Homo sapiens: one gene and its partner. The protein of the gene in region 1 purifies or fractionates together with the protein of each later gene. This does not show direct contact. Each region holds a gene or a part of one and is shown on either strand. Other genes may lie near its edges.

Region 1 (3,500 bases):
ACAAACAGTGCTGGAACAACAAAACATCTATATACCAAACAAAATGAATCCAGGCAAAAATGCGTCAACTTTGATAGTGGGCTGGGCACTGTGGCTCAAGCCTATAATCTCAGCTACTCAAGAGGCTGAGGTGGGAGGACTGTGTCAGGATAGGAGTTTGAAACCAGCCTAGGCAACATAGCGAGATCCCCATCTCTAAAAAATGTAAAAAATTAGTTGGGCATAGTGGCATGTGCCTGTAGTCCCAGCTATTCAGGAGGCTGAGTTCAAGGCTACCGTGGGCTACAATCAAGTCACTGCACTCCAGCCTGGGTGACAGAGTGAGATCTCTTATCTAAAAAAACAGAAACAAAAACAAAGAGATCATAGACTTAAATATAAAATGCAAAACTCTTAGAACATACGAGAAAAATCTACATGGCTTTGGGTTTGGTGATAATTTTTTAGATCTAACACCAAAAGCAGGATCCATGAAGGGAAAACTTAGGTTGGACTTCATTAAAATAGAAAACTTCTGGCTGTGTGCAGTGGCTCATGCCTATAATCCCAGCATTTTGGAAGGCCAAGGTGGGAGGACTGCTTGAGCCCAGGAGTTTGAGACCAGCCTGGGAGACATGATGGGACCCTGTCTCTATAAAAAATTAAGAAATCAGCCAAGCATGGTGGTGTGTGCTTGTGGTCCTAGCCACTTGGGAGGCTGAGGCAAGGGGACTGCTAGAGCCCAGGAGGTCAAGGCTACAGTGGCCGTGTTCACACCACTGTACTCCAGCCTGGGTGACAGAGCGGGACCCTCTAAAAACAAATGAATAAATAACCTCTGCTCTGCAAAAGATGCTGTTAAGAGAATGAAAAGACAAGCGACAGACTAGGAGAAAATATTTATAAAAACACCTAACTGATAAGGGACTGGTATCCAAAACATACAAAGTGTTCTTACAGCTCAGCAATTAAAAAAAAAAAAAAAAACCCATGCAACCCAATTTAAAAATGGGCAAAAGATCTGAACAGATACCTTACTAAAGAAGATATACAGATGGCAAATAAGCATATGAAAAGATGCTCAACATTGTATGTCATTAGGGAATTGCAAATTAAAACAATGAGATACTACTACACAACTATTAGTCTTTTGGATTTTAGAAAGGCTAAAATCCCAAACACTGACAACACCAAACACTGGTGAGGATGTGGAACAACAGAAATTCATTCACTGCTGGTGGGAATGCAAATGGTATGGCCAGCTTGGAAGACACTTTGGCAGTTTCTTATAAAACTAAACACACCTAACCATATGTATGATACAGCAATCAGGTTCCTTGTATTTACCTAAATGATTTGAAAACTTATGTTCAAACAAAAACCTGCAAACAAATGTTTATTCCTAATTGTTAAAACTTGAAGGCAACCACGATGTCCTATCATGGGAACCCGCCCCCCAATATTTCAGTGTAGGTTCTATTTTCCTTAAGTGTCGGCCGGTCTGAGAAACAGAAAGAGTACAAAGAGAGGAATTTTACAGCTGGGCCGCCGGGGGTGACATCACATATCGGTAGGTCCAGGATGCCCACCTGAACCACAAAACCAGCAGGTTTTTATTAAGGATTTCAAAAGGGGAGCAGGTGTACGAACAGGGAGTAGGTCACAAAGATCATATGCTTCAAAGGGCAAAAAGGAGAACAAAGATCACATGCTTCTGAGGCCAATAAAGATCACAAGGCAAAGGACAAAGCAAAGATCACAAGGCAAAGGGCAAAATCAAAAACTCCTGATAAGGGCCTATGTTCAGCTGTGCACATATTGTCTTGATAAACATCTTAAACAACAGAAAACAGTGTTCAATAGCAGAGAACTGGTCTGACCTCAAATTTACCAAGAAGCGTTTTTTCCCCACCCTAATAAGCCTGAGGGTACTGCAGGAGACCAGGGGGTATTTCAGTCCTTATCTCAACCGCATAAGACAGACACTCCCAGAGCGGCCATTTATAGACCTCCCCCCAGGAATACAATTCTTTTCCTAGGGTCTTAACATTCCTTGCTAGGAAAAGAATTTAGTGATATCTCTCCTACTTGCATATCCGTTTATAGGCTCTCTGCAAGAAGAAAAATATGGCTCCTACTGCCCGACCCCGCAGGCAGTAAAGACCTTATGGTTATCTTCCCTTGTTCCCTAAAAATCGCTGTTATTCTGTTCAAGGTGCACTGATTTCATATTGCTCAAACACACGTTTTACAATCAATTTGTACAGTTAACACAATCATCACAGTGGACCTGAGGTGACGTACATCCTCAGCTTACGAAGATAACGGGATTAAGAGATTAAAGTAAGACAGGCGTTAAGAGTATTATTAGGGAAGTGATAAATGTCCATGAAATCTTCACAATTTATGTTCCTCTGCCACAGCTCTAGCCGGTCCCTCCATTCAGGGTCCCTGACTTCCCACAACAATGTCCTTCAACAGGTGAATGGATAAACAAACTGTGGTGCAGCCATACAATGGAATATTATTCAGCAATAAAAAGAAGTGAGCTATCAAGCCATAAAAGGAAGGAATCTTAAATGCATGTCGCTAAGTGAAAGAAGCCAGTCTGGAAAGGCCATATACTGTATGATTCCAACTACATGATATCTGGAAAAGGCAAAGCTATGGAGACAGTAAAAAGATCAGTGCTTGCCAGGGGTTCAGAGACAGGGATAAATAAGTGAATCACAGATGATGTTTAGGGTGGTGAAATTAATCTGCATGACACTATAATACTGACATCGGTCATTTGCACATTTGTCAAAACCCATAGAACTATACAATACAATGAATGAACTTGAATGCAAAATATGAACTTCAGTGAATAATAATATATCAATGTTAGCTCATCAATTGTAACAAATGTACCACACTAATGCAAAATGTTAATAATAGGGGAAACGGACCGGGCAAGGGAGCACATGGTAATACTCCGTACTTTCTGCTCAATTTTTTTGTAAAACCTAAATCTGCTCAAAAACAAAGTTTGTAAATTTTTTCTTTAAAGTCGGATAGTAAAAAAACACGGGCAGAACCTCAAGGACTAACAAGTTACAGTCATAGGAGAGGACAGAGAATGGATTTAAAAAAACATTTGCAGAAATAATAAAGAAGAAATTTCCAAATTTGATAAAAAACATAAATTTGTATATTAAAGCTTGGTAAACCTCAACTCTAATAAACACCACACGTAACACTCCACACCCCGTTCTCCTGCAGCTTGGCACATCATTGTCAAACTTTTGAAATCCAAAGATAACAAAAATATATAAAGCATCCAGAAATAAAAATGACATATTGCACACATGGAAATGACCCCTCACTTCTCAGAAACAATAGAGCCTAATTTCATTTGTCTCTCTACAAAGTTCCTTTTATGAACTTCTCCCCTATGTCTCATATTCTAAGAAAGCATTTGATAGGGCAGTGCTAGTAGTGAAATATGCAATATCTACAAAGGAAAGGGTGTGCATGGGAAA
Region 2 (3,500 bases), on another chromosome or scaffold:
TAGGTATATGCATTGGTCAAAACTCAGTGAGTGTATATTTAATATTTTAAACATCATTGCATATACATTGTAACTTTAAAAAGCTGTAAGCAAATATTGAACTCTACTTAATGATATAAATGTTGAAGTATTAGGGAGATATGTACTGATATCTGCAATGTATTATACTTTAAAATTCACTGAAAATAAGATTAACTGATGAATGAATAGATGGGAAGATAGGTGATAAAGCAAGTATAGAAATATCTTAATGGTAGAATCTAGATGTAAGTCTATGGCTTTTCTGTGTTAAATGTTTTCAACTTTTCTATATGTTTAGAAATGTTCATAATAAAATGTTGGGAAAATAGAGTTACTACTCATTGTTTTAGGCACTTAGATATATGAGAGATAACAGAGGGAGAGTTTCCCAGAGGAACTTATCCAAGGGAAGTAAATTAATATTTACACAGTTCCTCCTACAAGCCAGGGGTAAAGGTAAGGATAACAATTTATTTTTAACTTCACAACAAGTGGGCACAGAAGGTATTATTATTGTAACTGGAAACTCATGACTAGCAGGTTAAGTAACTTGTCCAAGGCCAAAAATCAATAAATGGCAGACAGGATTTCACACTGAACTCCTTCTGATTACAAAGCCTGTACTCTTTGTAGTATGTCAAGTTTTGCAGCTATCTTCACCCTGCCTCTTCACCCCATATCTCCTTCCCTGCTTTTTTGTTTTTCCCTAGTACTTATCACAATTTGATATATTATATATTTGCTTATTTATTTTTAATTACTCTGTCGTCACTATAATGAGAATTCCAAGATGGCCAGGAATTTTTGTCTATTGTGCCTACAGTTTCATCTGCAGTGTCAAGAACAGAGCATGACTCTTGGTAGATGCTCATGAAATATTTGCTGAGTAAACTGAATTAATGCACAGTAACAGTTTGCTTGGAATAAGCAGAAGCAGGAGCGGTAATCCATCTGCAAAAATGCATAGTAAAAAGCTTGGCTGCAAGATGCAAAATAATGGGCTCCAGAAACCCAAAGCAGTTTGGAATAGCTAGGGAAGAATGTATGGAAAACATGAATTACATGCTAGAAGAGTAAGAAGGGATCAGATCATACAGAACCTTAAAAGCCATAAGGAAGGACTCTAGTCTTTCTCTGAAAGACACTGGGGAGGTTTAGAAGGATCTTAACATGGGAGCAGAAGATAAGACTCAGCATGAAAAATTAATGGAAGAGGGCTCACAATGGAAGCAAGGACATCAGTTACAACTTTAGCCATGGGAAAGAAAAGTGTTCTCACTGCAAGAAGAGGCATTGTAGATAGAAAGCAGGGGATAGTTTGAGAAAAATATAGGAGATTGAGTTGATAAGACTGGTTGTGTAATATAAGGGAGAGGGAAAAATTAAATATGATGTTTGGTTTATGGCTTGGGAAACTTAGTGGATGGTGGTACCATTCAATGAAAATGGGAAAACAAGTGGAGAAGTAGGTTTAAAATGAGTAGAAGTGATGAGTTCACGTTTGAATATGATATGTTTTATATTCTACAAAATATCTAAGTTGTGATATCAGTAGTCAATTGAATACACAGGTCAAGAGCTTTGCATAAATCTGGGCTGGATACATAAATGTTGTTGGGTAACCTAGCTGTTTGGTCACTGAGGATAATTTAATAACTCTTTTTCATTTAATAATGTTTTCATTTAAAAAATACTACCTCTAATATTTGACCCCACCCCTAAAATAAACCTAGTATTCTTTGGTTGGTGGCTATTTACTATTCCATGGGAATTATAAGAAGAATACAAACTGTTTGATAATAAAAAGCTATAGAATAGCAAGATTAAAATGTAGCAGATATAAGAATCTTAGGGATTTTTGTTACATTAGAAGGCTAATCTTTGGCAAATATATTACAGTTGGGGATAGTTCTTTGATACTCACCTGATCAAATACAGCTCTTTATTCCATGGGTAGATATTTAAGACTGGCCCAATCCCAATCATGTGGTTGTGACATTCTCCAACATCTTCAATATATTCATGCTTCAATGGCACTTTACTGAGGAGTTCAAATTCCTCAGGTGCCTTTTGAAGTACCTGTTCTGCTGCATAGAATCCATCTACTAGCAGTGTCCTGCCACCAGTTCCTTCATGTTTAAGACAATGAAACACTTGAATGCTAAAGAGAGAAAAGAAAATTCTTCTGTTCAGTGGAAGAGAGAACATATCAAAATTCTAGAAATTATATATAAAATGATTACTGAAACTACTTGTCATTTTCTTTTCATTTCCTAATTGGAAATCTCATTTCTTAATTGTTTTTCTCTCATAGGCAGTTGTACTTTTTTGTGTTTTGAAATATTAATGCCACTAGAGGTTTCTTCTAAACATATCTAACATATATTGAAGCTTATATGTGCTGGGCCCTGGGAATACAGGCATGAATAATATATAACCTATATTTTCAAGAAGCTCATAGTCTAGTAAGAAGAACTAAAGCAAATAAATACCAAATAAAATATGATAGGTACTATAATAAAGTTGCATACAAGATATAGTGGGGTCATAAACAAAGGAATGATCTGTTCTAGCGGGGTGTTGTATAAAGAAATGTTTTGGAGAAGAATGAAAATTGTTTTGACTAATCTTAAAGAATGAGCAAGAATTGGAGTAGAAGGAGATTGAGATGAGGAGAAGGCATTCTAGGCGGAGAGAAAGCATGACCAAAGATACCAATGTAAAACAACAAGGAGTAAGAAGTTCCTATTGGCATAGCACAGAGAACCACAAAATGATTTTAAACTGTGAAACTCTACGGCCATATCAATATTTTAAAGAGTCCATTATGTTGATAGTGTGGAACATGGACTGGTGAGAAGCAACGTGACAAAAAACTTGGAAACCAACTTGAACAACTGAAATAGTAAAGAAAAATATTGAGAGCTTGAACTCAGAAAGGGGCGTTATAGAGAAGAAGACACACCTGAGAGATACCGAGATAGAAGTAGCAGAATTTGATAACTGAAGGATAGGCAAGAATCTAGAATAACTCCAGGTTTCTCACTTGGGCACCTGAAAAATGATAATGCTATTTACTAAGACCGAGATTACAGACAGATATGCTGTTGAATGATAATGAGGAAGTATGAGAGGTTGAGGAAGGAGTTCAGTTTAGAGGCATGTTAGAACAGCTAATCATATACAGTTTCTGAATATGTTAACAGGGAAAGGTAAGGTGACTATTAATTGACTGGAAAACTAAGGTAGAATTTTCAAACTTATGAGGGAAAATAAAATTAATAGTAATTTAATCAAATATGCAAAACTAAGAAAAAGTAAAAAGCAAATTAAAATAAGAAATAAACAAAAATATGGAGTAAAATCAAGGACAATCTAATATAATATAAATACAATTAAAAAGAGAAAGGTAAGCCTGGCCATATTGAAATTTCTGTGAAACTTCTAGGTCAGGGTTATTTAGTTACCAGTTAAAGATG

The links. The genes of interacting proteins can lie anywhere in the genome.
Region 2: the proteins of ACAA2 (region 1) and TMLHE purify together in Homo sapiens (affinity purification with mass spectrometry; one large-scale study listed by BioGRID and IntAct). This does not show direct contact.

Annotation. Positions count from the first base shown.
Region 1 is NC_000018.10:49,807,034-49,810,533, forward strand, and holds part of ACAA2 (3-ketoacyl-CoA thiolase, mitochondrial), read right to left. Parts: intron 1-3,500. UniProt on the Homo sapiens protein: In the production of energy from fats, this is one of the enzymes that catalyzes the last step of the mitochondrial beta-oxidation pathway, an aerobic process breaking down fatty acids into acetyl-CoA.
Region 2 is NC_000023.11:155,504,953-155,508,452, forward strand, and holds part of TMLHE (trimethyllysine dioxygenase, mitochondrial isoform 1 precursor), read right to left. Parts: intron 2,183-3,500; coding exon 1,946-2,182; intron 1-1,945. UniProt on the Homo sapiens protein: Converts trimethyllysine (TML) into hydroxytrimethyllysine (HTML).